3 linked regions of the Homo sapiens genome follow. The protein of the gene in region 1 interacts with the protein of each later gene in a pairwise test. Each region holds a gene or a part of one and is shown in the gene's direction. Other genes may lie near its edges. The genes, in order: TMEM222, SLC10A1 and ELOVL4.

What was found.
Region 2: the proteins of TMEM222 (region 1) and SLC10A1 interact in binary tests that used the Homo sapiens proteins (3 or more experiments, as listed by UniProt).
Region 3: the proteins of TMEM222 (region 1) and ELOVL4 interact in binary tests that used the Homo sapiens proteins (3 or more experiments, as listed by UniProt).

What each region holds. Positions count from the first base shown.
Region 1 is NC_000001.11:27,334,523-27,337,049, forward strand, and holds the end of TMEM222 (transmembrane protein 222), read left to right. Parts: intron 1-144; exon of another isoform or gene 145-232; intron 233-856; coding exon 857-944; 3' UTR 945-1,878; downstream 1,879-2,527.
Region 2 is NC_000014.9:69,783,613-69,787,270, reverse strand, and holds part of SLC10A1 (hepatic sodium/bile acid cotransporter), read left to right. Parts: intron 1-963; coding exon 964-1,174; intron 1,175-3,658. UniProt on the Homo sapiens protein: As a major transporter of conjugated bile salts from plasma into the hepatocyte, it plays a key role in the enterohepatic circulation of bile salts necessary for the solubilization and absorption of dietary fat and fat-soluble vitamins.
Region 3 is NC_000006.12:79,920,018-79,923,675, reverse strand, and holds part of ELOVL4 (very long chain fatty acid elongase 4), read left to right. Parts: intron 1-1,879; coding exon 1,880-2,051; intron 2,052-3,658. UniProt on the Homo sapiens protein: Catalyzes the first and rate-limiting reaction of the four reactions that constitute the long-chain fatty acids elongation cycle.

The sequences.
Region 1 (2,527 bases):
TGGGCAACTGCCTTGGTCTCTCTTAGCCACAGCTGTCTCTGGTGAAATGCAGGCAATGATTCCGGCTCCTCAGGGAGGCTTCTACGGATCCCTGTGCTCCGGTAAAGTGAGCAGATAGATCCTCTCATAATGACTGCCCCACAGGTCCCTTCCTAGGCAGAGAGATTGAGTGAGTCGCCCATGGTCGCCACAGCATGGACACAGCAGAGCCCAGACTCGTGAGCCAGCATAGGTTAGTGCTGATCTGGCCGCCTCTCCAAGCTTTCCTCTTAGCCACGTTCATCATTAAGAGGTTCTGAAAAGAAGACTTTTAGGGATATTTTTAAGTACTGCATGGCTTTTAGAAGTCCCCTGAGAATAACTGGTCACACAGAGGTTGAACCCAGACCCCTGGCTCCCAGCTGCTTGGCTCCAGCCACAACACTGCTGACCCTTGCCAGCCCCAGAGCTCCCAGTAGTCCCCATTATGAAGTCCATAGGCAGAGGGCACACGTGGCTTCCATACCCAAACTGCAATTCCTGGTCCTCTTGCTGGAGACCCTAGAGGTAGGTGGCTATAGATGGAGCCAGTGAGGCCTAGAAATGGGGAGCATGTTTCCTGTTCCCAACCAGCGAGGTGTCAGTAAATCACCAGGAGCGCGGAGCAGCCCCTGCCCGGGACCATAGCTGGTGATCCCCCATAGTGGGCAACCATGCCCAGCCTGCTTCCTTGATTGGCCAAGTTTGGGGTGAGGGGGTGGTTGGGTTTTCCTTAGGGATGGCAGCCCTATTGGGGTCTGTGGGTGCTCAGGGCTGCGGGCCGCATGCCTGCTCACCAGGCCCTGCCCACCTATGCTCGCTCCTTTCTCTCTGTCAGCGTTGGGGCCTTCGTGAAGACCTGGCTGCCCTTCATCCTTCTCCTGGGCATCATCCTCACCGTCAGCCTGGTCTTTAACCTCCGGTGATGGCTGCTCGGTGGCCCCACACCCACCAGGGTCCCGAGGAAACAGCCGCCATCCCTTTTGGTTCCAGATTTTTTTCTCCTCACCCCAAAAGGCAGGGTTGGGCCTGCTGTTGTGGACCGGGGGTCGGGGCTGGCAGGATGGAAGGACTGAGGACCAGCATGAAGTGGGGGTTTGTTGTCTCCCTGCCTCTCAGAAGCACCCTGTCCCCTCCTCCCCAGGCCTGTGACTCCGGCCCTGGAAGCCCCTTTGTTCTTCTGTTGAAAGGCTTTGGCTTCCCGCTGTAGAGCTGCTCCCGCCACCACCTGCTGGGGTCCTGCCTCAGCCCAGTGCCCAGTATGGGGAGAGGAGGACATTTGGGCTCACCTGTCAAGGTGGCCCTGGGACCAGAGCTGGTCCCAGCATGGGGTGCACCGGGTACACTTAACGTGTCTCTATAAGCCAAGTTGCTTCAGGACCTTCACCACTGGCCTCTAGAATGGTCCAGAGGGGCTGGCTGGGTCCCTTTGTCAGACTCCTGCCGGCAGCTGCCCTGGGGGACATGTGTGCCCATCTGGCATCCTCCAGCCCGTGCAGTCCGCTCTTCACTGTTCCACGGCCTCCCAGTGCCTCCCAGCATTGGACCCATCTCCCCCTGCAGTTTGAGGCCAGAGAGGTGAGTGGACCTGACAAGTGCCAGAGTAACCGTGTAGACAGAGCAGTGTAGACAGCACTCAGCCCCAGCCCCAGGTGTGGACCTCATGCTGGTGATGGCTCCCCTGGGTGGCCTGCCAGCACAGCCAGTGCCATCAGGGAGCTGAAGGGGCTGTCCCCCACCTAACTCCAGCTCCCCCTTCACGTTGTCACCAAGGCCCTGTGCCGCCCGCCTCGCCCCCCTGCTCTGTGGATTCCTTTGGGAAGGGCTCCCTGGGCAGGACAATAAAGAGTTTTGACTCCAGTTGGTGCCCTGTCATTGTTTTCTCCCTCTCTGGGGCCCCCTTGCCCCTTAGCTCATAGCGTCTTGGTATTCTTGGGACCCTATTACCCTTGACAAGGGTCTAGTTGCCAGCACCATGGTTGAGTCTGCGTCCAGTGCCTGGGGCCATCAGCATCCCTCAGGTATATCCCGCCCCTGAAGTCTGGGGATTCCCTGCCATTCTCCATTCCCCATTCCAAAGCTTTCCTCTTGAGGCAGGTGGGCATTGAAACCCCTTCCATCGTCCCTGTTGGGAAGGACTTGTAGGCTTGGGGTTAGGGCTGAGTAGAGCCTCCACTGCTGTCCCCACCACCCGCCGGGGTACAGAGTTGGGGATGAGCCAAGAGCACTGCCAGCCTCTGGTCACTGTATCCATCCAGCCTTCGCTTGCCTCCGATCCTTTGCTCTCCACCATCCCTCTCATGGCGGCCCTGCCTAACCAAGGCCCAGCTTAAAAGCCGCTTCCTCCCTGAAGCCTTTCCCAACCCTGTCCATGCATCACTTCAGTTGAACTAGCCAAGGATTTGGTCTTGAACGTGGCCTTGAGGACATGCTCTAGCAGCTGGCCATGGGGTCCCTGGTCAGGCATCTGCCAGCTCACCCCAGACCCTGCAGTGCTGTGGTCTGCAAG
Region 2 (3,658 bases), on another chromosome or scaffold:
CCAAATGGAAAAGGAAATTGGACAAGTAGGATACATATTAGAGCTGGAAGGACATATTATTCAGGCTCTGAGTGTCATAATTTATTTTAAATAATATCAAGAGGAACCAGAAAGTAAAGAACATGAGAACACCAGAGTTGGGGACTGGAATACTATCCAAGATGCAAAGCAAATCTGACCAGGTTATCTTGTCACTTACTCAACATGGGTATCTATTACTGCCTTCTCTACTACCCCACCATTATGGCCCTTCAATTATTCTGTTTCTTACTGCTTCACTATTTCTTTTACAGTCCTTTTAATCATGGTATCTGTTTATTGATTTTTCTAGTAGGGTTTTTGACTTCTGCCTGAGCATCACTCCCATGCCACCCATCCCCAAAGACCAAGTGTCCTGTCACTGTGTCTCACACTCAGACTCCCCACGAGGTAAAATGTGCTGATATAGCTAATTGTTATTGTCTCCGTTGGACAAAGTCACTACAAGAAGCCATTCCCTAGGCTCTAAACCAGACATTTAGTAACTGTGGGTCAGGTGCCATTCCATGGTCCAATGGGCTAATGACCAGAGTAATGGAATCACACAGTTGGCTTTCTACAAAATGGGCTTGGCATGGGGGAGGTGCTCAATGCGAAAAGGGTTCCATTACAGAGAAGGAGATCAGAATGGCTCCTTCCACAATGAAGCACACAGGGATTGAAGCAGTTGAACCACCCTAAGTTCAAATGCTGCCTTGGCCACTTACTACCTTGTGCGACTTTGAGCAGGACACAACTCTTCTAGTCCCCAGCTTCCTTGTCAGCGAAAAGAAGATAGTATGCTTACTGCCTAATGTTATGGGGAAAAGGAACTGAAGCCACATATGTCAAGCACTTAGCACAGTGGCACTTAGCAGGCACTCAACAAAATAGTCTGTATTTATGGGCTCTCTCTCTCTCCCCTCTTCCCATGTCTCCCACCAGCATTGTGATGACCACCTGCTCCACCTTCTGTGCCCTTGGCATGATGCCTCTCCTCCTGTACATCTACTCCAGGGGGATCTATGATGGGGACCTGAAGGACAAGGTGCCCTATAAAGGCATCGTGATATCACTGGTCCTGGTTCTCATTCCTTGCACCATAGGGATCGTCCTCAAATCCAAACGGCCACAATACATGCGCTATGTCATCAAGGTAAGAACCTGGGAGGCTTGACAAATTAGGGCAAAAGAGTAAAAACACCATATACAACTATAAGATATAATCATTATATTAATAATAAACATACATATGCTCCTACTAGATGCTAAGTTTTATGCTATGCACTCTAAGGATTCACTGTCACCAGAGTTTGATATTTGCAGAAAGTGAAGTAACACATGAGGCTGGCGTGGTGGCTCACGCTTATAATCCCAACACTTTGGGAAGTTGAGGCGGGTGGATCACTTGAGGTCAGAAGTTTGAGACCAGCCTGACCAACATGACGAAACCCCGTCTCCATTAAAAATACAAAAAAAAAAAAAAAATTAGCCGGGCATGGTAGCGAGTGCCTGCAATCCCAGCTACTCAGGAGGCTGAGGCAGCAGAATCGCTTGAACCAGGGAGGGCAGGGGTTGCAGTGAGCCGAGATCGCGCCACTGCACTCCCGCCTGGGCCACAGAGCAAGACTCCATCTCTAAAACGAAAAAAAAAAAAAAAAGAAAAGAAAGAAAATGAAGTAACACACGAGAGAAACAAGATCCAATTCCAGTGTACACGCAAGTATTTGCAGAAGGCAAGGAGATGGGAACAGTGAGGGCTGGAGTGGTCAAAGAGCCTTATTAAAAAGGAAGGGCTTGAGGCATTTAGGTAAACCTGGGGAGAAGCCTGAATAGAGTTCAGCAGGCACTAAGGGCAAATTTGGCTGATGTGGCAAGAAGCTAGAGGAGACAGGTAGTGTACCCATTCCCAGCATTTCAAGAGAGGGATGGGGTGGGAAGTGGAGTGAATTAAGGCCACAAAGGTTTTGAGAAGCACTGTGGTCACAGACAGGGCATCATGCCACTGCTTTGTGTGCAGAACTCCTAGAGTGCAGCTATGGTCTCTCCACCAATATTTTCAACCTTGGAGTTTGGTCCCTGCCAGCCTCCCCCTTGGCTCACTATTCATCCCCCAGGGCCAGGAGGTCATCCTGGTCCTCAGGAAGGACTTGACCTCCTGACCTCCTGTACCATCTCTGCCCCTGGATCAATGCCTCTGGCCTGGTCTGCAAGGCGTGCTGCTGAGAACCCCAAAGTTTGGCAGCAGCTTTGGGCCTGGAACAAAGAAGTCAAGAGTCCAGTTTTCAGGGGGGTTTTATTTTCACACTACCATTGTCTCAAGAGTAGTTTTTGCCCTTGTCCTGTCCCAGTGCCATGGCCACAGCTCCCCTTCCCGCCTGCTGGAGGACATGGAGGAATCATCCCTCCTCCTTTCTGTGGCCAGTCACCCCACCTCAGCCCTGGATTGCAATCATTCTCTCTACCCTTGTACTCAAGAGACCTCCTTTTATTGATTATGCCCCTGGCCCAGCAGCCTCCCCTCTCTCTCATTTCTAAAATATCTCTGTATTGGTTCTTCACAATCAGCTTTGATACGAACTCACATATCTTCTATCTTCAAAAAACAAAACAAAAAGTGTCTCTCACTGGGATTTTTTGTGGAATCCACCTCCCATTCCACCTAATATCTCCCTTTGCTCTCCTTCCTAGCCAGGTTTTAGGAGTAGTCCCCCTCACTCCTCTCTCTCTCTGTCAATCGCTTCCTCTCAAACACCTTCCATTTCCCCCATGCCACCGCCAGAGCTCTCTCATGAGTGACCAGGCCCTCAGCAATTCGTTTCCATTATTTGAATCCCTCTCTTCTCTCCTTGGTCTCCCATCCACCCAGCATCTTGATGACCACCTGCTCCACTTTCTTTGCCAAATCCAATGGACATTTCTCAATCCTTCCTTGACCTTCTAGCAGCATTGGACATAATTGACCACTGCCTCCTCAAAAGCCTTCTCTGTCAGCTTTAGTGACTCTAAGCTCTGCTGCTTTCCTCCTACCTCTCATGACCTTCAGACTCCCTTATGAGTTCCTCTGGTCAAAGGCACTTCTCTGCATTCAGACCAAGCTTTCTGCCTTTCTCACCAGACCTCTCCCAGCACAGGATCTGGTCCCTCTCAGGTCTGCAATTACCATCTGCAAACCGAGACTTCCAGAACAGCATCATCAGATGTCAACTCTATCCTCACTCCAGAATCCATTTATTATCTACCAGGTCTTTCTATCTGAATATACCTCAGACATTTAAAACTCAATATATGTTAAAGTCATCTCCTCCCCATGTGGTTATCTCAGTCGGTGGCACTGTGTGTGTGCCCAGTTGCCCCAACCAGAAACTGGAAGTCATTCTCAATGTTCCCTTCTCCCTCACCACTCACACCCATCTAATCAATGACTGTCGATTCCACCTTCTGTTGCTGGAATCCATTCATTCCTCTCTATCCTTACCTCTCACTAGACAACTCAAATGGCCTTCTCATCCAACCTCCTCACCCAGTTCTAACCTGAGGGTGAAGATGTGAAGTACAAACTCTATCATGTCACTCCACTGCTTAAAGCCTCTCATTGACTCCTTCCCCCTAGGATAGTTTAAACTCCTTAATGTGGCAC
Region 3 (3,658 bases), on another chromosome or scaffold:
CAGACAGCAGCCATGTAAACAAATGACTAAGGAGGAAATAAAACCTAGAAGGTGACTGAGAGAAAATGAGAGACTACTCAGATGTATTGGCTATGAAAAATTTTCTTCTGATAACTATTGCCAAAGAATCTCTTCAGTTGGAGGGCTGACTTCTTGCTTGCCGTAGGGAAGGGAACAGGGATAAGTGTTTGACTGACTGACTTCTGGGAGTATGCATAGAAAAACCCTTGGGTGGGGCAACATATTACTATTTTTAGGATAAAGGTTTAAAAATACCACTCTCACTTACAGATGTAAATTTTCAAGTCTTTAAAAAATGAGCTATTATGAGAACTGTAATCTAGGAGGATAAAGAACCTGAGATTTGCAACAGATTTCATTTGAAATCTTCCTCGTGCTCTCTTCTCCTCTCTAATATGGGATGCAATAGAGTGAATATTTTACGCAGAGACTCATTTCTGTATTCATTGTTACGTAGCCAAGAAGTATCACTTTTTGGTGTAGTTTATTTAAAGATATCTAGTGCAGTTTGCAAACTAAGCAGACTTATTTGTTGTTATTTTATGTGAATTGTGGCAAATGTAGAGGTCCAGATAGAGGAGAAATAAGAGATTGTATCTTTCCTTCTAGTTAAAGGTTACGATGCCAAAATGGTGACAGTTACTTTATTTTAAAGAACTAATATAATAGTGAATATTAACTATAGTGTTGCTGGGAGTAGTTAACTATTTCAAGCTTATTTTCAACCAATTCATATCATTTTTAATGATATTTTTCAAGTAAATTCAGTAAATAATTCTCAGTTTGTAAATACTTTGTTTCTTATATGCTTTCTGTTTCTTCTTTCCCCATACTTTAAAATTATAATTTTGTTTTTCAAATGCAAAAGCCAAAACAAACAAAAATCTCATGACATATACCAGGTGCAGGTATAAAATGCAAAGGGATCCTTCAACTCTAAAACACCTAAGCCTGTCTGTGAATGAATCTGACAGGGCCCTAACACATGAAAGCTTATAAATAGATTTTAGTTATGTACTGCCTTAATTGTTATTTGCACATAGGATGCTTATCATAGAAAATACTTGACATAAAAAATTAAGTTTGGTTTACTGTTACAGTAGGATTCTTGTAAAACATTTTAAAACATACAGAGGTCACCTCTCACTGGATCCTTAATCTCAGTATGTAATGTAATCTTTCTGTACCATCTGGTGCCTTAATTAGAGCCCAGGAAAAGAAAAGACTTATTCATGTAAGCAGGATTATATTTATGACCTGGGAAATATTTGTTTGTTCATTCCAATTTTTTATTTTAAAGATTTAATACCTAATACAAACTGCTGTGATTGGATATTTATGTTGTTGCACATATTGGTGCAGTCGGAGAGGTGAGGGAGAGAGGGAGGTGAGGGGAGAGGGTGGGCAGACAGGCAGACACTTGTAGAGACCAGTTGCTACATGAACTTACTTGCAAGTTTTTCTGAGGTAGTATAATGTAGGCTAAGCATGAACAACTAAAATCATTTTACAAAGTAAACATCTTAGTTCCTCTACCAAGTTGAAAAGCACAGCAGTCTGAATGTGCTTCCAGCTCTGTATTCAGCAGTTTGACACTATGTAACATCTACCTATGGAATAGACAGAAAATGTTCTCTAACTTATTGGCACTGTATAGATAGAGCTTTGGACTCTTTCTTTTCTATTTTTCCCCATGGAGAGATGCTTAGGTTTTTCAAACCTACTTAGCCATTAATGATTCCATGCCTTGTACATTTTGTGCAATATACAAATGTTTATTTTGGACTTACTTACAATGAGTATAAACCCATACAATAGTGTCATTTTGGTGTTTATAACACGCTTTCCCTTTTTACAGATAGCTGCTGCTCTGTGGTGGTACTTTGTATCTAAAGGAGTTGAGTATTTGGACACAGTGTTTTTTATTCTGAGAAAGAAAAACAACCAAGTTTCTTTCCTTCATGTGTATCATCACTGTACGATGTTTACCTTGTGGTGGATTGGAATTAAGTGGGTTGCAGGAGGACAAGGTGAGCATTTTCAGGAATATACTGCTTGCGTTTAATTGCATATATGTGTTCAGTGGAAAGCAATGAGAACCTAGGACTTTGACTTGATCTACCATTTAACTTGCTTTCATGGTTAATCATTTCCATGTTCATTTCTTTTTTTTTTTTTTTTTTTTTTTTTTTTTTGAGATGGAGTCTCGCTCTGTCACCAGGCTGGAGTGCAGTGGCGCGATCTCGGCTCACTGCAACCTCCACCTCCCGGGTTCCAGCGATTCTCCTGCCTCAGCCTCCTGAGTAGCTGGGACTACAGGCACACACCACCACGCCTAGCTAATTTTTTGTATTTTTAGTAGAGACAGGGTTTCACCATGTTGGCCAGGATGGTCTCGATCTCTTGACCTTGTGATCCGCCTGCCTCGGCCTTCCAAAGTGTTGGGATTACAAGCATGAGCCACCACACCCAGCCATCATTTCATTTTTTAAAAAATTTGAGGCAAGTATAACTTTTGCTTTTTATCTGTGACTACTTTAATACCTAAAGATTTGCCCCAGAGATGAGCATAAACCAAGACTAAAGGTAGAAAACAATATTTTGATGGGGAACGGGTCTAGTAGTTCTGATCCAAAGAATACCAAGACACAGCCCCTCAAATCTGAAGATTTCCATCTTAGCCCATAGCTCACTCCTGCCCTAATACAGATTGAACATCCCTAATCTAAACATCTGAAATCCAAATGCTCCAAAATTCAAAACTTTTTGAGCACCAGCATGATACCACAGGTGGAAAATTACACACCTGACCTCATGTGATGGGTCACAGTCAAAACACAAGTGCAGAACACACTTTATTCAGTATACCTAAGGGAAAAAAGACCCTCTTAGCCCTTTTCCATGTACAGCATAATGTTGATGCCAAACAACCACAGATAATGTCCACACGGGTGACATCTTTGCTTTCTGATGTTCAGAGTACACAAACTTTGTTTAATGCATAAAATTATTTTAAAATTTTATAAAATTACCTTCAGGATACATGTATAAGGTGTATATGAAGTTTTGGATTTAGACCTGAGTCCTATCCCCAAGACACATCATTATGTCTATGCAAATATTCCAAAGTTTAAAAAAATCTGAAATCAGAAACACATCTGGTCCTGAGCATTTTGGATAAGGAATACTCAGCCTGTATAGGTCTTGTTGGTTCTTATTCAAAGGAAATTTTATATAGCCTTGTTAATGTTAAAGAGGATCTAAATTCATAGCTTGGCCAAGATCTGCCTCCTGTCTTTTCAGATGCCTGTAGATTAAGGATGATTCACATTGTTGAGCTTGATGCAGATTATTCCTCTGAGGAGGATCCAGGGTACAAGTCATTATAGTATAGTTCACCTTGCTGCTTTCCATTGTCATATTATGATAATTGGCAGCTTAGGAATTCATACATATATTATTGGGGGCCCAGTTTAAAACAATACAGTTAAAGGCAACTTCTGTAATTTTAAAAGAAAATTAGTAAATCTGAACTGACTTAGATCACTTTATGACAAAAATTAATTATTATTACATCTATACCTTGATTAAATTAATATTCTGAAAAGAAAGAATGTCATTGAGTTTGACTGACTGG